3 separate regions of the Homo sapiens genome follow, and regions 1 and 3 are each linked to region 2. The links come from fine-mapping of genetic effects on gene expression. A gene starts in region 2. Each other region holds a variant in brackets. All regions are shown on one strand. Distances are from middle to middle. Region 1 overlaps TMEM11 (transmembrane protein 11). Region 2 holds the start of NATD1 (N-acetyltransferase domain containing 1). Region 3 overlaps TMEM11-DT (TMEM11 divergent transcript).

Region 1 (8,178 bases), 43 kb before region 2:
TCCTTTACCTTCCCAAACTGAAACTCTACCCATGAAATGATCCCCCCATTCCCCACCAACCCCAAGCCCCTGCAAACTACCATTCTACTTTCTACCCCAATGAATCTGACTATACAAGTACTTCATACAAGTTGGATCATATATAGTATATGCCCTTTTGTGTCTGGCTTATTCCACAGAGCATAACGAGTCTTCAAGGTTCATCCATATTGTAGCATGTATCCGAATTTTCTTCCTTTTTAAGGCTCAGTAATGTTCCACCGTATGCATAAACCACATTTTGTTAATCCATTCATCTGTGATGGACACTTCGGTTTCCACCACTGGCTATTGTGAATAATGCTGCTATGAACATGGGTGCACAAACATCTCTTTGAGTCCCTGCTTTTTTTGGGGGGGGGGTATATATACCCAGAAGTGGAACTGCTGGATCATATAGCAGTTCAATTTTTTAGTTTTTTTGAGGAATCTCTATACTGTTTTCCAGAGCAGCTGCACCATTGTACATTCCCACCAGCAGCGCACAGGGGTTCCCATTTCTCCATATCCTCACCAACACTTGTTATTTTCCGTTTTCTTTTCTTTTGAGGCAGTCTCGCTCCATTGCCCAGGCTGGAGCGCAATGGCGCTATCTCGACTCACTGCAACCTCCGCCTCCCGGGCTTAAGCGAGTCTCCTGCCTCAGCCTCCCAAATAGCTAGGACTACAGACATGTGCTGCCACGCCCAGCTAATTTTTGTATTTTTAGTAGAGACAGGGTTTTCACCATGGTGGCCAGGCTGGTCTCGAACTCCTAAGTGATCTGCCAGCCTCAGCTTCCCAAAGCACTGGGATTACAAGTAAGAGCCATTGTACCTGGTCTCATTTTCTTTATTTTTATTTGTTTATTTATTTTGTGGAGACGGAGTTTCACTCTTGTCACCCAGACTGCAGTGCAGTGGCACAATCTCGGAGCACTGCAACCTCCACCTCCTGGGTTCAAGCAATTCTCTTGCCTCAGCCTCCCAAGCAGCTGGGATTACAGGCACGTGCCACAACGCCCAGCTAACTTTGTATTTTTAGTAGAGACAGAGTTTCTCTATGTTGGCCAGGCTAGTCTCGAACTCCTGATCTCAGGTGATCCCAAAATGCTGGAATTACAGGCATGAGCCACCATGCCTGGCCTGATTTGTATTTTTTAATGGCAGCTTTACTGAGATAGAATTCACAGCTTTACTGAGATAGAATTCACAGAGCAACTCCCCCATCGGAGGTGAACGATGAAGTGGCTTTCCCAAAGTTGTGCAACCAATAGCACAACTGATCCTGGTGCATTTTCATCATCTCAGAAAGAAACCCTGTACCAATTAGTGGTCCCTTCACATCTCCCCAGCCCTCCACAACCACCAGTCGGCTTCCCAACTCTCTGGATATGCCAATTCTGGGTATTTCATTTAAATGGAATCCTGTAACGTGGTCTTCAACAACTGGCTTCTTTCATTTTGCATTATGTTTTTAAGGGCCATCATGCTGTGGCATGTTTATTACTTTTCACATATTGTAAACATAACTTTTGATGTGTTTAACATATAACTTTAAAAAATCTAAGATAAGGCTGGGCATGGTGGCTCACGCCTGTAATCCCAGCACTTTGGGAGGCTGAGGTGGGCAGATCACCTGAGGTCAGGACTTCAAGACCAGGCTGGCCAATGTGGTGAAACTGTGTCCCTACTAAAAATACAAAAATTAGCTGGGCGTGGTGGTGCATGCCTGTGGTCCCAGCTACTTGAGACTGAGGCAGGAGAATCGCTTGAACCCCGGAGGCAGAAGCTGCAGTAAACCGAGACTGCACCACTGCATTCCAGCCTGGGTGACAAAGTGAGAGTCCGTCTCAATAATATAATTTTAAAAACCCCTAAGGCAAGATATATAAGACAAAGTATCAAAGGTGCTATACATGAAAATAGATCAGGCTAGGCGCGGTGGCTCACGCCTGTAATCCCAGCACTTTGGGAGGCCGAGGCGGGCGGATTACCTAAGGTCAGGAGTTTCAGACCAGCCTGGCCAACATGGTGAAACCCCGTCTCTACTAAAAATACAAAAATTAGCCAGGTGTGGTGACAGGCGCCTGTAATCCCAGCTACTCAGGAGGCTGAGGCAGGAGAATCGCTTGAACCTAGGAGGTAGAGGTTGCAGTGAGCCAAGATCACACCACTGCACTCCAGCCAGGGGGACAAGAGCGAGACATTGTCTCAAAAGAAACAAGAAAATAGATCAACAGTGGTTTTCTTTGGATGGTGGCCTAATAGGTGACTTGTCAATTTCTTCATGCTTTTCTATATTTTTTAAAAAAAAGTGTTTCTTTTTTTTTTTTTTGAGACGGAGTCTCGCTCTGTCGCCCAGGCTCAAGTGCAGTGGCGTGATCTTGGCTCACTGCAAGCTCCGCCTCCTGGGTTCACGCCATTCTCCTGCCTCAGCCTCCAGAGTAGCTGGGACTACAGGCAATCGCCACCACGCCCGGCTAATTTTTTGTATTTTTAGTAGAGACGGGGTTTCACTGTGTTAGCGAGGATGGTCTCAATCTCCTGACCTCGTGATCCGCCCACCTCGGCCTCCCAAAGTGTTGGGATTACAGGCATGAGCCACTGCGCCCGGCCAAAGTGTTTCTTTTATAACAGGAAAAATAATTATAAACTTATTCTTAAAAAGAAAAATTCTGTTCAACCCTATATCCCTTGAGGTAAAGGGACCAGATACCCGTGGGAGGGCCTCCTTCCACTGCCAAGAAGAGCGGGAGGTGGCTCACTTCCTGCTCCAGAACCTTCTCGGTGTCCATGAAAGGCAGAAGTCTGGACGCGGGCAGCTTCTCATGGCTGAGGTGTCATGCTGGTGTGTACCTGTAGTCCTGCCCAAAAAGAGGAGGGCAGTTCCAGCTCCGTTTCCCTTGAGCAAACACTGGCTAAGCTGCCAGGCCAGCCACCAATCACCTTCCCAGTTCTGAGAGACCCAGCAGAGGCAAATCTGAGTGGAAGCATCCACATTAGGCCCCTTCTTGGAGTGGGGCCCGGGCTCACAGGCAGGCCTGAAGCTCCATGAGGGCAGAGGCTGCATTTTCATCGTAGTTTCCCCAGCACTGGGCCTGAATGTAACAGGTTCCCAAAAGACACAGGTTGGAGGGACATTTGTAATGATTACAGACATGAGCCACAGGAGTCACAGGAGGAGAAAAACAATTATGGTTATTAAGAGAACTGGTACCAGAAAAGTCAACCCATCCGTCAGGCTGCTTTTCACTTAGTGAAAGGGTCACTTGATCACCTATGATACAGGAGGTGCTGGGCTGGACCTCCACCCGCTTCTGCCTAATTAAGCCCTGCTTCTTTGGGACCCACAGAAAGCAGAGGACTGAAGCAGTGAAAGCCCGTGCCCCAGACTCAAAGGCACGGGCATGCGGCCCCATGGCCTGAGGACGGCTCCCACAGGCCAAGGAACTTTCACAGGACACCCAGCCCTTTCGTCTGCTTCAGAGGACACTTTCCTATTCTGCGCACTGGTAACTCAGCAGCCCTTCTATCTGGGGAGCAGGAACACGGCGCACCAAGTGTGGGAGTCGAGAGGGTGGATTCAAGTTCCCTCTCGGCTGCCTACTGGCTTTGTGTCCTAGGGCAAAACACCCGGCCCCTCTGAGCCAGTTTCCCATGTTGTCAAACGGGGCCAGAGGCCCTGGCTCTCCCAGAGGACTGCAGTGAAGATGGGAACAGTCGCCAAGCACTGCCCCTCTGCCTAAGACACATGTGGCTGTTGAAATTT[AAATT/A]AATTAAAATTAGACATCTTAAAAAATTCAGTTCCTGGCCGGGCACAGTGGCTCACGCCTGTAATCCCAGCACTTTGGGAGGCCAGGGCGGGTGGATTCCTTGAGCCCACAAATTTTAAGACCAGCCTAGACAACATGGTGAAAACTCTGCCTCTACAAAAAATACAAAAATGAGCTGGGCGTGGTGGTACATGCCTGTGGTCCCAGCTACTCGGGAGGCTGGGGTGGGAGAATGGTTTGAGCCAGGGAGACGGAGGTTGCAGAGATCCGAGATCATACCACTGCACTCCAGCCTGGGTGACAGAGCCAGACCTGTCTCATAAAATAAATAAATAAATGAAACCTCAGTTCCTCAGAGCCACACGTGGCTAATGGCTGCCCTAATGGACTGCAGGGACACGCCAGGAGTCTGTCATGCCAGAAACTCCTACTGGACAGCCCTGCTCTGAAGAACTGTTATGACTACTACATGGCTGTCAGCTTTTCCTGAGAACTGTGCCCATAAAGTGGCTGCTGGCACCAGGGCGGAACACCGTGGCAGTCAGGAGGTTCCCGGGTGTGCTCGGTCATGGAGTGCTGCCCAACTCCACCCCCCGCACCTCGCTCATTGAAGAACAGGTGCACACCGACAAGCCGGGGCAGAGGAGCCACCTCCCCACCTCCGTGGACCCAGGCGCAGCCCTCCCCTCTTCAGAAAGGGGAGCCTTCCCTGGAACATGACCTAAAGGACTGAACCACTGAGACACAAATTAATGCACTTGGAATCCAGGCTGCTTGAGTGAACCAAGGAAAACAGAAATTCTTGAAAACTTGAAGGCACATCAATACTGAAGAGGATGAACCCCATCCTTACCTACGAATCCAACTTCTGCGGCCAGAACATGTGGCTTTGCCTTTGTTAAAGAGCTGAGCAGAATCCCACAACCAGTGGCTAAACCCCCACACACTTGGGTGCAGATCCCGTATCTGCTCATCTCATCCCAGCCAGAAGGAAACAAAAACTCCCGCCACACACAAAAGCAAGCATGGAGTCTTTCAAGAGAGATTAAATACTCCCAAAGCCTGAGAGTCTAAAAGGGAAGGATCAGATCAGAAAGGGAAGCTGTCACCCCGGGACCATGACCCAACCTGCCCCCGGGGCCTGTGCTCCATCTGCTCACTGGATGAACGTGTAAGGGCCACCTGGGACCAGGCACACCTGAGTTCACAAAGAAGAGGACAGGTCCTGGGGAATAAAGCATGGCAAGGAAAGCCATGAAAGTCAGCCCAGGGAACTGGCTGCCTATAAAACGCTGGAGCAGATGGCCGCGCAAGCCAGGGGAGGGGCAGGCCACAACAAATAACTTCGCGCTAAACCTGAACTTTTAGCCCCGTGCATCTGGCCCTCTGCACACCCCAGGTTGCCTCATATCATGCTCAGAAGCAGATCAAGTACATCTTCACGTGATTATAAAAACAGGAACTCAAGAGCACACAGCTATACTCACATTCCAACAATCACGGAGGGCTCTGGGAGGTTCAGGGGCCCTGAGACAGTGAAGCCGAGCAGCCCAAGTAAGACAGGCAGGGCTGTCTGTGAGCTGGTCCGGGCTGGCACACGGTGGCAGAACACAGATACCTGCACTGTGCTTTCCTAGATGGGCAAGTGTGTCTCAAAGACGCCGACAGGACAAGTGGCAATCTGTTTGATGTGCTCGTTGCCAGTGTGCTGAATTTTGGACAAGAATTCAGGTTACAGCTCAGAGTCTGATGTTCTTCATTACAAACACTGTTGGTTCCCTAGATTTAATGGAGTGGAGAGAAAAATCAACATGCAAGCACTACCATTTTGCTATTTCCACCCCTCCTATCTTAGTCGAAACCAGCACTGTCCATATCATAACTTTCTGCAGTGATGGAAATGTCCTCCACCTATGCTGTCCAATATGGTAGCCACAGGCCGGAAGTGGCTATTGAGCACTTGAAATGTGGCTAGTGAGACTGAGGAGCTGAATTCTTCATTTTACTTAATTTTAATGAATTTAAATGTAATTGCCACATGTAGCTGGTGACTACTGAACTGCTGTGTTAATTCAGCACTAATTCTAGAGCTGTGGTTCTAGACTCAACAAGGTAAAGCAAGAACCCACACGCTACACGTGCTAAACTGGACCATCCAACACACAGCGCCGGCAGTAATACTGCAGGCAGTCTGGCACTGGGTGGGACCTTTAAGTACAATGCATGCTTCAGAGTTGGTAGCCGCTGGCAAATCTGGCAAGTGTGCCCAAAGTGTCACTCTGTTCTAGCCCCTTCCCCAAACCAGATAATGTTTCCCTCAGCTTCAGCAAAAGCAGATGCTAACCAGGTGTGAGCAGCAACGGGAGAGAGCACTCGTATAACATGGAGCTGAGATTTGAGTCAGCACGAATGTGACATGGAACAAAGTCATTTTAGAGAGCCATAAACAGCCTACTTCAGTCATAAGAGCCAATAATACACTCAGATCTCATAATCTAGAGTGCTGGGCCATCAGCTAATCCGCCCTGCCCCACCTGAACAGTCATCACCAACTGAGCAGGAATGGAGGGATGCCCAGAAGTCAGCTCGCTAGCCCCACAGCGGGTTATGTTTCCATCCCCTGCTCAGCATGGGAAGAGCTTAGGGAAGCTGGGCTCGGGGAAATGACTCTTCCAACAGAACCTGGCTAGGGGTTTACAGCAAGAGCAAACAGACAGGTAGTCTCCACCCATACCACGTTATCTAGGAGAGTAGATGGTGACATCCAAACTACAAAACCAAATGCCACATTCCTGCTGACACACAACATCTGCGTGTGTGAGTAGAGCCTTCAGTTCCAGGCCAAAGGTGCAACCTGAACACCTACAGAGACCAAGCAGGCAAATGCATTGAGTCAAGCTGACAGGTGATTTGAGTCAAGCTGTCAGGTGATTTGAGTCAAGCTGTCAGGTGAGGAACCAAGAACTGGAACCAAGCACTTGTCCCGACCAAAAAGAGTCAGCCACTACCCAGCTTTTCAGGGAGCGTTTTATATGAAATCTGCTGGCAACTAATTTAAATTCTCTTAAAAACTGTTGAGGTTCAACAGTCAAGGACTGGATCCAGCCTATGCACTGCTAATTTGCAGATCCATTTTGAATAAACAGTTGTCTCAAGCCAAAACAAAAACAATTCTCAGCATCTATTTTCTTAGATCAATAAAAGCTTAACCTGTGCTGGCAAGGCTCCTGTTCCCTGCCTGAGGCATCCCTATTCGGCTCTTTTCAGATGCTTTTAGTCCAACAAGAGGGCGTATGTTTCTAATACTTTGTTTTCTAAACAGGTTATTTCGTATTACTGTTTGCATTGAATATCTTGAAAATGTTTGCTAGTTTTTAAGAGCATCTGAAAACCATTGAGGTAACTTATTTAAATGGTCCAATCTAATACCAGGCGGGAGTTAGAAAAACAAAAGTGTGTTTACCACTGCTTTTCCAAGGAAGAGGAAATGCAGAATGGGCAACGCTGGATAACTGGGCTAAAGAATAAAGTGCAAGCAAGCTAAAGGATTCTATCACAACTGCCAAACAGGAAGAATCTTCCCAGCTGGGAAAGCCATCTGCAAGCAATAGCAATGAACACGGGATGGAATCAGTCACAGAAAAGGAATAATGCAGAGTAGTTGAGAGGAAGATAACTTTTCTGTTAGACAATCCTCACCAAAAAGACGGGGAGGGGGAGAACCAGCAAAACAAAAACTTTTCCTTTTTTGCTGACCGCTGCTATAACAATCAAGCTTTAGCGGACAGTTAATCCAGGTGGCTCCACCAATACATCTTCTCCCAAATTTCTAGTGGCTGAACAGCTTCTAGTGGTTTCCACTAGCTGAAACTGCTTCCCAGATGCAAAAACTGCAACTTGAACATGAAACACGGAAACTACTCCAATCTCATCTTCTAGAAATCAGTTATTCAAATGGAGGTCCCTGTTGGAAGAAACACGCTCCTAGCTCCCTGCCCACACACCATTCATTAGGAAAGGTCACTTTAAAGGACTTCTACGGCAGGAGCGCTTGCACAGAACCATCCAAAAGTCTTCAGAATCTTCCCTCGAGGAAGTGGCCGGCTCTGGGCTCGGAAGAGACACATCTGGCGGGAGCTAAAGCTCCCTAGTAAACGTGCAGATCAAACTACCCCTGCCGCGGCCGGCCTGCTCTGTGAAGGCTTCCCCTTCTTTCTCTCTCCGGGGGCCCTGCCTTCCTCTACACGTCTGGGGCCGCGGCCGAGATGGCCACGCGCGTGCCCAGGCGGGAAGGGTGCTTCAGCAGCCGATCGGCCCGCGGGCAGCTAGGCGGGTCCCTGAGGCCTGCGCTGGGCGCCAGTTCCTTTCAGCACGGCCCGGCCTCG
Region 2 (8,178 bases):
GGCCTCCGGGGACCCTTCCTTCTCATTTCAGGTGAGCCCAAAGGTCACGTGCCCAGAAGCCTCCCCTGACCACCCGCAGCCCCCATGATGGGACAGCAGGACACCAGGGTAGCACTGTCAGCCACGCTTTCACTTCTGGGCACTGTGGATCCTGCTGTCTCGGCTCACAGTGACATAGGCATAGCCTCTGGGCCTGGCCCAGGCCCTTATCTGGGCAGCTCTAAGAGCTGCCTTGAGAACTCCAGACCTCAGACTAGCACAGGGGGGCAAGACTTGTCACTTGGGAGCCACAGGAGCAAGCCTAGGGCAGGGCAGGGCCCTCAGTTCCAGTCTCAACTCTGCCAGGTGATCTTATGCCAGTCCTGACACCCCTCTGCCCCAGAGACCTCACCTGTCCCTGGATGATCACTACCACCCTCCTCCCTCCTGGGCCTGAGAACCCCACCAGCATCACGTGACTGGTTTGGGAAAAGTTAAAGCTACACTGCTCGTGGGGGACCCGTCCCTGGGTCTCTGCACCCCCATGCTCTCTCTGCCCCTCCTGAACCTCGGGACCAAAGGGGGCCAGGAAATTGTCAGGGGAGGCGATCACAGAGAAAGACCAAAGCTTGCAGACAGGGGACAGGGGCAGGACCTCTGGGAGATGTGGAGTCTGCAGAAGACATTGACCTCTGCTTTCTCCACTCGGCCCACACTGACCCCGCAAGGAGAGCTGGCAGATCAAAACGCGAATATACAGATGAGGAGACTGAGGTAGACGGAGGCAGAGCCCAGGCGCCAGAGCTGTGGCACGGGACAAGGACAAGCAGACACCCTGGCCGGCTTTTCTGGCACCTCTGTAAGTAGAGCCTGGATCAGGGAGGTGCCACATGTTGGTGGTTCATTGGTAGATTAGGCAGAGGGAGCTGTGAGCCTGGAGAAGCTCAACCATACGTCCCTCCCCTCCCCAGAGGACCCTGGTCCAGCCCAGCCCAACACAGCCAGCGGCCTCATATTGGGGCTGTGATCTGAGCACCTCCCAAAGCCTGGGGCTGTGATCTTAGCTCCACTGCATCCAGGGGTGCTGAGGGAGGCCAGGGGCAGCAGCTGACTCTCTGGGGCCTCAGTCTTCCTGGCTGCAAAATGGGGGTTAGGGAGGACGCAGAAAGTTCCAGGGTTCTGCACCCCTCAAGTGTTCCTTTCCTTGCAGCAAGTGGGACACTCAGCCCTGCCTGTGAGGGAAAGGGAAGGCTAAGGAAGGGGCTGCCCAGGAGGTGGGGGTCTCTTCCAGCTGCCTCCAACCTTCAGAAACCGTCCTCAGATGGAGGCCGGGGGCTTGATTCTGGCTTAGCTGCCTACAGGCTGTGCGCCTTGGTTTCCCCATCTATAAAGTAATGACAAGCTTGCATTTCAGAACCAGGATATGGCATCAGACAAGCCTGAGCTCAAGCCTTCCCTCATCACCCACAAGCAAGTCACAGCCATGCTTCCTTCCACATCTGTCCAGGATCTAGACGTTTCTCCCACGCCTGTTTGCAGTGCCTGGACTAGTAAAGTAACCACCTCCCTGCTCTGTCCTGGTCCCCACAGTTTGCTCCCCTTAGAGCAGCAGCTAGAGGGAGCTGGGGCATCCCATCTGTCTTCTGCTCAGGACCCTCCTGGGAGCCTCAGAGTCAAAGCCGAGCCCATAGGACAACGGCTTCCAGGCCCTGCACCACCTGCTCCCCATGACCTCTTGACCCATCCTGCACACACAAGGCATCGCAGGCACTGCAGAGCCTTTGCTCTTGCTATTCCCTCCACTTGGAACACTCTTCCCTGTTGCAGCTCTGTTTCTTGCCTCCTTCAGGTCTTCACTTAAATGCCACCCTCCAGGGAGGGGCCTTCCTAGACACATGATTGTAAATAGCAGCCCTGCCCAACACAGCCTCCCCTCTGCCCCCTGCACCTCTCATGAAAGCCCTTGTTTTCCAGGATACTTTAAAACTGACTCTATTTCTTGTCCATTTCCCTCTCTAAACTGTCAGCCCCAGGAGACCCCGACACCTAAAAGAGTGCTTGGTACATGGTAGGTGCTCAACAAATACTTGCGGGGTGAATCACAGCTCTTCCACCTCTGTGGTGCAAGACTTTGGGCAAGTCATTTCACTTCCCCATGCCTCAGTCTCCCCATCTGTATATGGGAAATGCAGTTTCCCCTCTCCCTGTGGTGTGTGGCTATGAAATAAAGTGACTCCAGGTGCCCAGGGCCTCCTAGAACACTGTAAATGCTTAATAAACAAAGGTGCTCAAACGTTTTCCCTCACTCAGAACCAGAGCTCGCAGGAAGAGAATCAGCCTAGCTGTGCTATGTGGACAGCCTAGGAACACTTCTGCACCAGGAGCCTGGGGCTACCTGACCCCTCAGCCTCAGTGTTTATATCTCTCAGTGGGCACAACAGCACCAGCCTCCAGGCTTGCCTTACAGGTCGGGAATGACACCACAGCCTGTTGTCCTCCTCAGCTCAGGGAGGCCTGGGCTCAGACTCAGACGACCCCTCTCTGGTCCCAAGACACACACCCAAACCCAGTGGGGCCTGGAAGCCCAGAAGAGCCCCACCCTGTGCTGCACAGCCACTCCCTTGGGGGCCTCTGGCCTCTCTCTTCTTTCTCCCCTGGGCTTGGCTGGGGAGATGCCCAGCCACATCTGTGGTCAGCTATCTGGGCAGTGAATTCCAGAAGGGGGTAAGTTTAGAAATACGGCTGGGCATGTCCAGCCCTGACCACGGCCAGCTCTGGAGGGCTGTCCTTTGGCTGTACCCACTTGGAAGAGAAAGAAAAAGAAAAAAAAAAAAAAAAAACAAACGTATCCCCTCTTCTTTCTGTCTCTGAGTATAATGGCCCTCCCGAGCCCACAAGGGAACCAGAGGCCGCTCTGGAACCTCAGAAGAGAGGATTTGAAAGCCATGAGGCCTCTCTCCCAGAGTCGCCAGGGCCCCGAGTGTCCTGGCCAGCTGAGCCCTGCCAGCACCACAGCAGTAGCAGGACTTGCCTCTGCCTGGTGGTGTAGGGTTGGTTGGGCCAATGGTGAAGTTCTGGGTGATGCTGGGCAATCACTTCCTAAGGTCCCTAGCCTCAGTTTCCTCATCTGTAACACGGGGTGGTATGTCACAACATTGTCAGGGTATTGTGACAGTCCCATCCACGAAGCTGTAGTGGGGCCTGGCTCGACACTCGGCACATTCCAAATGGCATCGGAGATCTGGCAGAGGCCCCTCCTGGCTGAAGCCAAATGTGGGTCGCAGGAGCCCCACCGTTCAGGGAGTCAGACCAGTCAGGACGCCATCCCAGCTCTGCCCAACTCTCAGCCTGACCTCTCGCAAGCCTTTCCCTTTCCTGGCCCTCCACCTTCCCTTCTTGAAAATGGGCACAGTGGCCCCTAAGGACCGGTCCAGCTTGGACATTCCCACTGGGGCGAGGTGGGCCACAGGGAGTTCATAGCCCTTGTTTTTGTAGTTCTATTTCCTACCTGTGGGACCTCCTGAGGGGGGATGGGCTAATCAAAACTTCTCTACACTGGCAGGGCGTGGTGGCTCACTCCTGTAATCCCAGCACTTTGGGAGGCCATGGCAGGTGGATCACCTGAGGTCAGGAGTTCAAGACCAGCCTGGCCAACATGGTGAAAGCCTGTCTCTAATACAAAAATTAGCTGGGCATGGTGGTGGGTGCCTGTAATCCCACCTACTCCTGAGGCTGAGGCAGGAGAATCACTTGAACCCAGGAGGCAGAGGTTGCAGTGAGCCGAGATTGTGTCACAGGAACATTGTGTCGCCTGGGCGACAGAGTGAGACTCCATCTCAAAAAACAAAAACTTCTCTACACTAAGGGAGAACTTGCCCTTGCTTTCTGGCTTCACGAATCACGATCGGGCCACGTTTACCAGCACTTACTAATCCCCCATGAGCTGGTCTGATCCTTTACATTTGTTACAGTCTTTCATCCTTACAACTAGCCAATGGGGTGTGCACTGGTATTATTCCCATTGCAGAGAGGGAGAAACTAAGGCACACAGAAGTGAGGCAAATGGCCAGTCCCAGAGCCACTGAAGTCTTGATAGTGATAGCCATCCCCCCGCCCCTCACTCCCCCCAGGGGACCACAAGCCCCTTTCGCGGTCAGCCCCAGGTCCGCAGGCCTCCCCCGTGTAGAAAGACTAAGATTCCCAGGGGCAGCAGGAAGCCATATACCACCCGCAGAAGGGGACAGGTCACGGCTGACCAACTTTCCAGGATCTCAAACAGGAGCCTTCAGTGGGTGCCCAACAGTCGTGAACAAGTGGGCCTGAGCAGGTGCGGGTCCCCTGCGGCTGAGACAGGGGACCCGCGCTGCCCCAGCTCCTGCCTCTGCCTTTCCAGGGGCCCCTGTCCGCCCTGGCCCCTGCTCTCCCGGGAAGTCTGCCCCCGCCCAGCCCGTTCCACTTCCCGGAGCGCCGGCCGCGCCCCCACCTGGCCCCGAGCACAACCCGGCCCGCGCCCGGAGCTCCGGCCGCCCGGGACCACCCCGCGGCGCGCGCTTGCAACAGCCTTCCCGGGCGGCGGGCCGGAGCCGGGCCGCGGGCGCGCGGGGGACAGGCACCCAGCAAGGGGGCGGCCCCGGCGGGCCCCGCTCGCTCGCAGACAAAAGGTCGGGGCGGGCCGGGGCCGCCTTACCGTTGAGCCGGACAGTGAACTGGCGGCGCCGGCGGTCGTGCTCCACGCGGATGGGGCAGCCCTGCTCCAGCGCGCCCAGCGGCACGGCGGCAGCCGAGTGCGCCATCTGCGCGCGGGGCTGCGGCGCGGCGCCGGCGGGGGCCGGGGCGCGCGGGGAAAGGTCAGGCGCGCGGCGGGGCTGGAGCGCGGGCGCAGGCGGCAGGCGGTGGGGTAGTTACGGCCTGGGAGACCGCAGGCGGCGGCGCTGAAAGTGACACTCGGCGGCGGCGGCAGCAACAAAAAGGGTGGGGGGGGGGCCAGGAAATCAGCTGTGAGGTCACGTGCGGCGCGCAGCCAGTGGACGCGCGGCCTTTTTGTTTTGATACATTCCAGTCACCTCTTAAAGGGGCCGCGCCGGCCGCGTTCCTCTCGCAGCCCCAAACAAAACAACACGGGCCGCCGCCGCGCCGCGCCGGCTACTTTTCCGTCTTGCGTTTGTCCCACGTGCAACTTTGGGACCCCCGCAAGGAGCCTTCTAAAAAAGACGTAACAATCTTTTGTATGGACATTCTAATCGTCCCCAAGGCAGCCACCATTTATTAAGCACTTGCTGTGTGCACGGCCTGTGTATAGCAAAGCCCTGGCGCACAGGGCGCTCAGTAATCACTGCGCTGAGATTTATCACCAGAAGCCTGAGAAATAGGTATGCTTGACTCCATTTTACAGATGAGCAAATAGAGGCTAAGACAAGTGAAAGACATGCATAAGTTCTCACGCAGCTGAAGCCCTGGGGCTACTGGTGCTAGGAGTGCGCACCCACCCGTGTTGGCAGCCTGGGTGGCTACTGGCTACTGGGAAGGAATTGTCCTGTGAAGCCTTGTTTGGGATAGGAGTGAAATGCCACCTCTCCCAAAGAGAGGCGTAAATGCGGGAAGAGGCCTTGGGGATCCCTGGATCCACTCCATAGATGGGGAGGCTGAATCCCAGAAAGGGGCAGGGACTTGCTTGAAGACACACAGGACTGTTGGGGCTCAGACTTCTTTGAAAGGCGCCTTAATTAGGCTCCTCAAGGCTCAACCTTAGAGCCACACCCTCCCCTCTTGCTCACCTGAAGGGGCACTCCTGTTGCCCATAGCTGTGCAGTGAATCATACAGGTTACTTTTAATATTTTGCTAATTACGGTGCAAACTTGATGTTCACACCCGTGTGACCACCATCCAAATCAAAATACAGAACACTGGTGGTTCCCTAGGGCCCTCTTCCAAGCAATGCCCTACCCTTTGAGGTAACCACTGTCCCTGACTTCTAGTGTTGTTGACTAATTAGGTTTCTCTAGACCATCATGTAAACATAATCATACAATATATACTATTTTATTTTATTTTAAGACGGAGTCTCTCTCTGTCGCCCAGGCTGGAGTGCAGTGGCTTGATCTCGGCTCACTGCAGCCTCTGCCTCCTGGGTTCAAGCGATTCTCCTGCCTCAGCCTCCTGAGGAGCTAGGACTACAGGGCTACAACAACAAGCCGGGGTAATTTTGGTATTTTTAGTAGAGACAGGGTTTCGCCATGTTGGCCAGGCTGGTTTCAAACTTCCAACCTCAGGTGATCCATCCGCCTTGGCCTCCCATCGTACTGGGATTACAGGCATGAGCCACCGCACCCAGTCCAATATGTACTTTTAATGTCCAATTTCTTTTGCTCAATATTTTATCTGTGAGATTCATCCCTGTTTTTGCATCTTTTTCGCCACTGAGTAATTATTCCATTGTGTTGACAAAAAAAGCCAAACTGTAAAATATTTGAAGAGCTTATTCTGAGCCAAATATGAGTGACTATGGCCCTGGACACAGCCTCAGGAGGTCCTGAGAACATGTGCTGGAGGTGGTCGGGTTATAGCTTGGTTTTATACATTTTAGGGAGACAGAAGTTACAGGCAAAGACCTAATACCTGTAAGGTGTACATTGGTTCGGCCATCCAGAAAGTGGTGGGGGCTTACAGCTCATAGGTGTATTCAAATATTTTCTTTTTCTTTTTTTGAAACAGGGTCTCGCTGTGTCACCCAGGTTGGAGTGCAGTGTCGCCATCTTGGCTCACTGCAACCTCTGCCTACCTGGCTCAAGCCGTTCCTTTGTCAGATATATTTACCGAGAATATCCTCTGATCCTCCCATCTCAGCCTCCCAAGTAGCTAGGACCACTGGAATGGGCCACCACACCCGGCTAATATTTTTGTATTTCTTTTAGAGATGGGGTTTCACCATGTTGCCCAGGCTCAGGCGATCCATCCGTCTCAAACTCCTGACCTCATCCACCTGCCTAGACCTCCCAAAGTGCCGGGATTATAGGTGTGAGCCACCCTCACCTCGCGCCCCCACCCCACCCCCCCAATTCAAAGATTTTCTGATTGGCAAGTGGTTGAAAGAGTTAAGCTTTTCCTAAAAAGAGTTGATGTCAGAAAGAAATACTCGAGTTAAGATAAGGAGGGGTGTGTGGAAGCCAAGGTTCTTATTATGTAGATGAAGCCTCTAAGTAGCAGGCTTCAGAAAGAATAGATGGTAAATGTCTCTTTTAGGACTTTAAAAGGTGTCAGACTCTTAGTCAAATCTCTCCTTAATCAGAAAAAGACCCAGAAAGGGAGGGGGATTCTCCACACATGCAAATTTCCCCCACAAGAGATGGCATTGCAGGGCCATTCCAAAATAAGTCGAATAATATATTTTTGGGTAAAATTCGTTAATTTCCTTCGGGGCCTGTTATCTGTCATGCGATGCTATACCAGAGTCAGGTTGGAATTTGTTATCTTAGTGCTACAAAGAGTCTGTTTTGGGTCGGGCGCGGTGACTCACGCCTGTAATCCCAGTACTTTGGGAGGCCAAGGCAGGCGGATCATGAGGTCAGGAGATCGAGACCATCCTGGCTAACATGGTGAAACCCCATCTCTACTAAAAATACAAAAAAATAATTAGCCGGGCGTGGTGGCGGGCGCCTGTAGTCCCAGCTACTCCGGAGGCTGAGGCAGGAGAATGGTGCGAACCCGGGAGGCAGAGCTTGCAGTGAGCAAAAAAAAAAAAAAAAAGGAAAAAAAGAGTCTGTTTTGTCAGTCTAATTATATATATTTTATGGGTTTTTTTTTTTTTGAGACGGAGTTTCACTCTTGTTGCCCAGGCTGGAGTGCAATGGCACGATCTTGGCTCACCGTAACCTCTGCCTCCTGGGTTCAAGCGATTCTCCTGCCTCAGCCTCCCGAGTAGCTGGGATTACAGGCATGCACCACCACGCCCGGCTAATTTTGTATTACAGCGTGCTACCATCCTGGGCTAATTTTTTTCAGTTTCATAGAGTTGGGGGCCTCTCTGTGTTGCTCTGGCTGGTATCAAACTCCTGGACTCAAGTGATCCTCCTGTGTTGGTCTCTCAAAAAGTGCTGGGTTTACAGGCATGAGCCACCATACCTGGCCTTTGCTGGATCTTATAGTAGGTGTATATTTAGTTTTGTGAGAAATTGCCAGAGCTTTTTCCAAAGCGGGTGTAC
Region 3 (8,178 bases), 33 kb before region 2:
CAGACGGAAAGGCGACCCTCTCCTTGTTGAGGATTCCTTTCGATTTCCTTCCAGCTGACATTCTACCACAGTTTTAGCTGCTTGCAATCCTCTCACCGTCCCTCATCACCTACAGTGTGTGATTCAAATTCCTTAGCACAATCAAGAAGCCCCTCCTTAGTTTGGAAGTTGCCTAGCTCTCCAAATTCAACTGCCTACCTTTCCCGTCTGGAACTTGCCAGGCTAGTAAATTCAGAGGGTTTGCAGATACGTAGATGTTCTATGCTTTACCTAAAATGCTTTTACCTCCCAGCCAACTTTTTTTTTTTTTTTTGAGACAGAGTCTTGCTCTGTCGCCCAGGCTTGAGTGCAGTGGTGCGATCTTGGCTCACTGCAACCTCCGCCTCCCAGGTTCAAGCAATTCTCCTACCTCAGCCTCCTGAGTACCTGGGATTACAGGTGGTGCCACCACACCCAGCTAATTTTTGTATTTTTAGTAGAGACGGGGTTTCACCATGTTGGTCAGGCTGGTGTCCAACTCCTGACCTCATGATCCATCCCCCTCAGCCTCCCAAAGTGCTGGGATTTACAGGCATGAGCCACGGTGCCCAGCTCTCCCAGCCAACTTTTGTCCTTCAAGACCTTGTACCTGTCTGGTCTCTAAAAAGTACCTGGCCTTCCTGTTGAGTCATACAGCCCTGCCTCCAAGTGTCAGCGTAGTTCATGCTGGAGACCTCTTAACAGTTCCATGGTATGACACTGCGGATATGGCTGTCTTTTCTTTGTATCAGTGTGGTGATTCAGAGGGTATACTAGGGATTCTAGAACGCACTTCTGGCTCAGGGGCTGCTTGTGTAACTTCTGTTTCTCAGCTGCCTGGTTTGTATCATGGGATGATAGTATCTCCCCTCAGAGGATTGCGGTATTTCATGAGGTGATACGTGTATGGAGGCCAAGTGCTGTTTTATATTTTAAGTGATCTACATCTTGATTTTCACAACAACTGTATAAAAGTGATACTGTTGGCCAGGTGCGTTAGCTCACGCCTGTAATCCCAGCACTTTGGGAGGCCAAGGCGGGTGGATCACCTGAGGTCAGGAGTTCAAGACCGGCCTGGCCAGCATGGTGACACCTCGTCTGTACTAAAAATACAAAAATTAGCCGGGCATCGTGGCACACGCCTGTAATCCCAGCTACTCGGGAGGCTGAGGCATGAGAATCATTTGAACCCGGGAGGTGGAGGTTACAGTGAGCTGAGATCGCACGACTGCACTCCAGAATGGATGACAGAGCAAGACTCTGTCTTAATAATAGTATCACTTTTTTTTTTAATCAACAATCTCATTTTGTAAATGAGGAAATCAACTTACAGACGACCTGAGTGACTTGCTCACACTGCCAGCCAGGAAAGTGCTAGGATTTGAGCCCAGACTGTCCAGTTACAGAGATTACACTCTGCCATTGTGCCTCTCCAGAAGCACTGGAGGTAGGTCTAGTGCATAGAGTAAATGTAAATGCTGAAACAACTGTGGCCCTAATGAACATCCCATTTCTCCAGCTTTTTACTCTCCCCTTAACTTCTGAATGACCGTCTGCTTCTAATCTGCCAACTTGGTCTAAGATCCTCACGGTGTTTCCTCCTGATTACTGTTAATGCACGGAGGTTGTCTGGAAGGTTCATAGGCAGCCTGATTGACTCAGTATGTATTAGCTGAGCACCTTTGGAGGGCACAGCCTGAGTGGTGGGAATTAGTTCCTGGGGGCTGTCCTGCGGTGGAGACTCCCGTGAGCCCTCTGTCCTGCTGTATGAAGGCAGCCAGTGGAAAGGCATGTCCTCGCTGGTGCTCAAAGTAATCTGCTACTTCTCTTACTACACTTTTCATTCATTCATTCTTAAATCGTTGAAGGCATACTCTGCAGGTACTCTTGGGCACAGAGATACGGTGTTTAGTAAGACAAACACTGTTCCTGGGTCTTAACGGGCTTTACATTCCAATGGGATAAACAACTTAAGTAAATATTTTCAGAGAGGAGTACCAAGAAGAAAAGGAACAGGATGATATAATGGAGTGACTTGGAGATCACAGGTGGTAAGAGGTCACTCTAAAAAGGTAACATTTGAAGGCTGGGCACAATGGCTCACACCTGTAACCCCAGCACTTTAGGAGGCTGAGGAAGGAGGACAGCTTGAGTCCAGGAGTTTGAGGCCAGCCTGGGCAACATGGGGAGACCTTGACTCTACAAAAAATTTAAACATTAACTAAGTATGGTGGCACGTGCCTGTAGTCCTAGCTACTGGAGAGGCTGAGGTGAGAGGATCTCTTGAGCCCAGGAGTTTGAGACTGCAGTGAGCTATGTTTGTATTACTACACTCCAGCCTGAGGGACAGAGTGAGACCCTGTCTCTTAAAAACGAAAACCCGACTGTATCAAAAGGTAACATTTGAGTGGGACTTGAAAGAGTGTGCATGCGAAGGACTGAAGACAGAATGTTCTGTGCAGAGCGAATTAATGCAATGGCTTTGCAGTGCAGATGGGCCTGGGGTGGTCCAATAAGGTTAGGACCAAGGTGGCTGGAGCATCATGAGACAAGCGTGGTACTTAGCTTGCCTTTGGTTAAGTCACTTTCTCTATTTGAATTTCAGTTTCTCACCTGTAAAATATGAGTAATTTTATCTGTATTAGCCAGTGTGTAATTAGAGGAAAAACCATTTAATACAGGGTATTGTTTACAAAGGTGTTGGAAGGGCATGAGAAACAAGGGGAGAACAAGGGCACCCAAAGCCTGACCCCCACAAGGCTAGAGGAGCAACAGGAAAATTCGTTTCCAGAGACTGATTCCTCAGCTGCTGAGCAGGAGCCTGGAGCCACACTTGCTGCCTGGTACTACTGACACACAACTGGAACCACCGCTGTGGCCTGGGGTGCCACCAGAAGCCAGAGATTAGAATTGCTTTCCCCATCTCATATCTTCCAAACTCCCACCAGTGCCTCCCACTGGCTGAGTCAGATGACAAGGGAGTCTGGGAAATGTAGTTGTTTGGCTTCCAGCCCTGACCATGGAGAGTATAGAAAGGCAGGTGTAGGGGAGAAAATAGATGCCATTCACACAGCGCCTATCTTGCAGGGCTGTTTTGAGGAGTAAAAACTCAGCCTATTTTTATTCCTCATAGCATGTAGTAGCATTCAGGGAAAGGCAAATCTTCCAAAACAATATCTTAGGTATAATAGTTCTACATAAAGGTTTGAATTTACCATTAAAAGCATCAAAATGAGCATTTTAAAAGTAGAATTTTAAGTCTGAATGGGCAGTATATTCACATGGTATAAAATTCAAATTACAAAACAATATACAGTGAAAAATAAGGGGGTTTTTTTGCTCATCTTCTTGTGACCTGGCTCTTTCCATCTCTGTCCACAACCCTCTGCAGGCAATAACTGGTACCTTTGTTATGGATCCTCTGCAGATATAAAGTAGACATATATTAACAAATGTTTTCTTTGGCCCAGAGGATGCATATTATGCACATTCCTCCATTTCTTGTTTGTTTTTGTTTTTTCCACTTAATTGTATCTTGGAGATCACTCTGTATCAGTATATATCTGATTTGTTTTAGCAGTACATGATAATCCATTGTTTGGATATGCCATAATTGTATCAGCCAGTCTCTGGACAGTCTTTTACTATTTCAAGGAGTGCTGCAGTAAACATGTTTGCGCCACTTCCTGGTACCCATTGCAAATA[A/G]AACTGGGATAATTTCCTGACGAGAACTTGCTGGGTCAGAGTGTAGGCACTTGTTGTTTTGATAAATATTGCCAGACTACACCCCACTCCCTCCAGCAGTACATGACACTGCCTATTTCCCCACAGCTGTGCCAGCATGGTCTGTTAGCAAGTGTTTTCTTTTTGCAAATTTAAAAGTGGTATCTCGCTAAATGCAATATGGTAGCAGAGGACATTTGTGGAAAAACAGGTGAAATCTGGGCTGGGTGTGGTGGCTCATGCCTATAATCCCAGCACTTTGGGAGGCCGAGGCAGGCGGATCACAAGGTCAGGAGTTCGAGACCAGCCTGGCCAATATAGTGAAACCCCGTCTCTACTAAAAATACCAAAAAAAGTTAGCTGGGCATGGTGGTGCAAGCCTGTAATCTCAGCTACTCGGGAAGCTGAGTCAGGAGAATCGCTTGAACCTGGGAGGCGGAGGTTGCAGTGAGCCAAGATCATGCCACTGCACTCCAGCCTGGGTGATGGAGTGAGACTCTGTCTCAAGAAAGGAAAAAAAAAACAAAAAACAGGTGAAATCTGAATGGGGTCTTGAGTTCAGTTAATAGTAACTGCCAATGTTGGTTCTTAGTTTTGACACATACCATGACTATGTGAGATGTTAATGTCAGGGGAACCAGGATGAAGGCTATACAGAACTGTACTATTTTTGCGACTTCTCTGTACATCTAAAATTATCCTTAAAAAGGTTTCTTTAAAAAATGACATCTTGTTTTCTGTAAAATTTGAATTTCTCATGAGTGAAATGGAACGTTTTGAATATGATGCTCTTTTTAAAAGGTGGCCTTAATAATTTGTATTTACTAAGGAAAAAAGTCAGAGTTTATTTACTTTAAAAAAATTCAGGCCGGGCGTGGTGGCTCATGCCTGTAATCCCAGCACTTTGGGAGGCTGAGGCGGGCGGATCACGAGGTCAGGAGATCAAGACCATCCTGGCTAACATGGTGAAACCCTGTCTCTACTAAAAATACAAAAAATGAGCCGGGCGAGGTGGCAGGCGCCTGTAGTCCCGGCTACTCTGGAGGCTGAGGCAGGAGAATGGCGTAAACCCGGGGGGTGGAGCCTGCAGTGAGCAGAGATTGCGCCACTGCACTCCAGCCTGGGGGACAGAGCGAGACTCCGTCTGAAAAAAAAAAAAAATTCATTAACAGTACATTTAAAATTTCTGTTACTGGAGATTGTATTTCTCATTCCATCCATTAATGTGCAGCTTCAATGTTTTCCCCCAGATATGCAATTTCACTTACAGGATCTTGTTCTTCAGTGACATGTCATAAGAGTTAATAATTCCACAAGCCACCCTGCACTGCTGTGATCCTAACAATATTGAAAGGTTGGTGTGTATCCTTTCCTACCTTTCCTCATTCTAAAATGTTTCCTCGTTCTAAATGCCAAGCTGGTTTTGAACAACTGACCTCAGGTGATCCACCTACCTTGGCCCCTCAAGGTGCTGGGATTATAGGCATGAGCTAACATGCCCAGCCCTAATCTGCTCTTCTTAGATGGATACTTGTCAGATTGGGTTAAGACCCACTCTCATGGCCTCATTTTAACTTAATTTTCTCTTTAATAAAAGTCCAAATGCAGTCCATTCTGAAGTACTGGGAGGTTAAGATTGTGTTATTTGAATTGAAGTGAGGGTGAGGGGCAGGGGCACACAACTCAGCCCATAACACGTAGGATTAAAAAAATTCTTCGGGTCCGGGGAGGTGGCTCACACCTATAATCCCAGCACTTTGGGAGGCCAAGGTGGGAGGATCACTTGAGCCCAGGAACTGGAGGATGCAGTGAGCTATGACTGCACCACTGCACTCCAGCCTGGGTGACAGAGTGAGACCCTGTCTCAAAAAATAAAGTGAAGCCTCAGCCTCAGCATACAGTGAGGCAGTGTGTGTGTGCAGTGAATCGAAGTTCCAGTCATCATTACTTCATTTCAGGGCTCCACACTGCCATCTGGGCATCCCCAGGCCTCTCTGGACTGGCCCTGCCCCACCCTCATGGAGGTAGCCTTTACCTGGCAGGCACCTCAGAGGCTGGTCCTATATGTCACATCATTGAGATAAAAAGAAATCCAAGGCTGGAAGCAGTGACAAATGGTGTGGACTTGGTGGAAGTTGCCCAGGGAGATGGATGAGAATGGTGACATCACACATAGCACGGCTTTTTCTCCAAAATCCCAGGACTTACCACAGTGGCCACACTCTGTCTCTCACCTGTTCACTTTCTTCTGCTCGCTCGCTCTCTCTCAGCCTCCCCTGTCCCACCTTTTCCATATGCGAAGACTCTCCCCCAGCACCCCTGTGGTGGTTTAAAAGCATGGCAGCAAACTCCTCGGCATTCCTTCCTTCAGGGTGGTGCCTAAGTCCCCTCCCAGGGAATCTGAGTGGGCCTATAACTGCTTCAGTCAGCAGGGTGTAGAGGAAGTGATGCTGAATGACTTTTAAGGTTGGCTCCTAAAAGGCCATAGAGGCTCTGTCACTGGAGCTCCCTGTGCTGTGATGGAAGTCTGAAGTCTTAATGCTGAAGAAGCCCAAGCCATGTGGAGAGGCCAGGTGTCAAAGCTCTAGTGAGCATCACAGCTGAGCAGGGACAGGGCCCTCTGCTTCTTGTGGAGCCCTCTCTAGATTCCCCACACACAGAATCCACAAGCAGAATGAAGTGGCTGTGATTTGATGCCCCTGGTTTCCTTGTTATGCAGCAGTAGATCACTGAAATCAACCCCCTTCTAAAGGCCTCTCTGCAGACATTCTCCACTTGGTGAGACCAAAGCTAGCCTAACAGGGCTCAGCAGCAGAGAAGCCCAGCCATTGGCCAAAAAAGCCACTGGCTACCATGCAGCCAGGATGTCCTTGGGGAGCCTTGATCTATCCCACCACATCAACATTTCCACCTCAGACATGGGAAAGGCACCAAGGTGTGAGCATGGGCAGTACTCCTAGGGAACCCCAAGCACACCCCATTGCCCCAAGATGCAAATGGAACTCCTCACTGGTCCCATAGTTTTACAATGTGAGTCTAGGAAAGCACAGATGAGCCCTCTTTTATGTTATTGTCCGCCTTGGCGGAGAATGGAAACAGCAAGAATGCTGAGCTTGTGGTGCAGACTTGGAGATGCATTTGTCACTAGAACCTTAGCGCGTGCTTGTACAACCCTGGTGGTGGAGAGATGAATGGACGAGGCCCCTCCTTTCCATAGCTCATGTGGCCAGCCCCTCATCTAAGGCAGGGGCCAAAACAGAGCAGGAATGTGGAAGGGTGGCCAGCTGTCCTGGCTTGCCTGGGCCTGAGGGGAGTCCCAGGGCATGGGATTTTTAGTTTTAATATTGGGAGAGTTTTGGGCAAACTGGGCCAAGTTGGTCACATGAGGGTGTGGCAAGCAAGGCAAAGATGGTTTGATCATTGCAGCCCCTCACTTCCCATAGCTCACTGCAGAGCCTGTGTCATCCTGACAACAACGATGTGGAAGGTGAGACATCTGGCAGCATTTTGACTTCATGAACTGGGAAACGCACATGGGTGGAGGCGCCTGCCCACGCTGCCCAGTGTCTCATGGTGGCCACAAGAGGCTGCGGCTCCTGTTGCTCAAACAGGGCCCTGTTCTTGTCCAGCATTTCCACAGCAAGGCCCCTGCTCACACCAGACACTTCCAGGGAACCCTTGGCCAGATGACAGCAGTTGCTCTGGTAGTTAACGTTATGGGAAACAGATTCTAGGAAGCGCCCATGCATCGCATCACACTTTTTCATCTCTCCTTCTGTCCATCCTTCTGCCCACTCCTAGTTAGGGCATGTGTGCTCCAGGCTGGGAGCCAGGGCAGCCTCATGGGTCAGCCCCATCCGCAAGGAACCCATGTCTGGGGAGACAGGCATTCAAGAATGAGATATTTTCAGGTGAGTGCTAGGCAGGCGATATCACTGAACATACTTAGGGGTGAGTGGGGAAGGAGGTCTACCTAGGTAAGGAGGTATGTGAGTCTGTCCTAGCCAAATACCACAGACTGGGTGGTTGAAACAACACAGTTCCTGCTCACAGTTCTGCAGGCTGAAGTGCAAGATCAAGGTGCTGGCAGATCCCGTTCCGGCTGAAGGCAGATGTCTGCCTTCTTGTGTCCCCACATGGCTGAGAGACACAGAGAGTTCTCTCCTTATAAGCATACCCTTTCTGTCAGATTAAGATGCCACCCTGTGGCCTCATTGCACCTTCGTTGCCTCCTAAAAGCCCCGTTTCCAAGTACAGTCCCATTCTGAGGTCCTGGGAGTTAGGTCCTTAACACAGGAATTCTAGGCGGACACAATTCAGTCCCTAGCACCCCCGTTCCCAGTTGGATCAAGGCCTCAAAATGAAGACAGGCTTGTCTCACCTCACCTGTCCCTCTTCTGAGAAGCTGCAAGACTGAGAGGGAGCTGGAGATAATAG

What was found. PIP is the estimated chance that this variant, and not a neighbour inherited with it, causes the effect.
Region 1: its variant is fine-mapped to the expression of NATD1 in whole blood (TOPMed, PIP above 0.99).
Region 3: its variant is fine-mapped to the expression of NATD1 in whole blood (TOPMed, PIP 0.96).

Annotation. Positions count from the first base shown.
Region 1 is chr17:21,205,656-21,213,833 of GRCh38, forward strand. All of the region lies in intron 1 of TMEM11 (transmembrane protein 11), which reads right to left. Among named protein-coding and RNA genes, the nearest start is that of TMEM11, 4.4 kb to the right of the region's middle. RefSeq lists an enhancer at 1-83. The variant AAATT/A (reference allele first, on the strand shown) is at 3,790.
Region 2 is chr17:21,248,493-21,256,670 of GRCh38, forward strand. It overlaps NATD1 (N-acetyltransferase domain containing 1), which reads right to left and starts at 4,918. Exons shown (of 3, transcript NM_152914.3): 1 at 4,667-4,918. The coding sequence starts at 4,772. RefSeq lists an enhancer at 548-1,049 and silencers at 4,540-4,659, 4,810-4,919.
Region 3 is chr17:21,215,374-21,223,551 of GRCh38, forward strand. TMEM11-DT (TMEM11 divergent transcript) reads left to right here. Exons shown (of 2, transcript NR_184102.1): 2 at 4,992-5,360. Among named protein-coding and RNA genes, the nearest start is that of TMEM11-DT, 5.1 kb to the left of the region's middle. The variant A/G (reference allele first, on the strand shown) is at 3,724.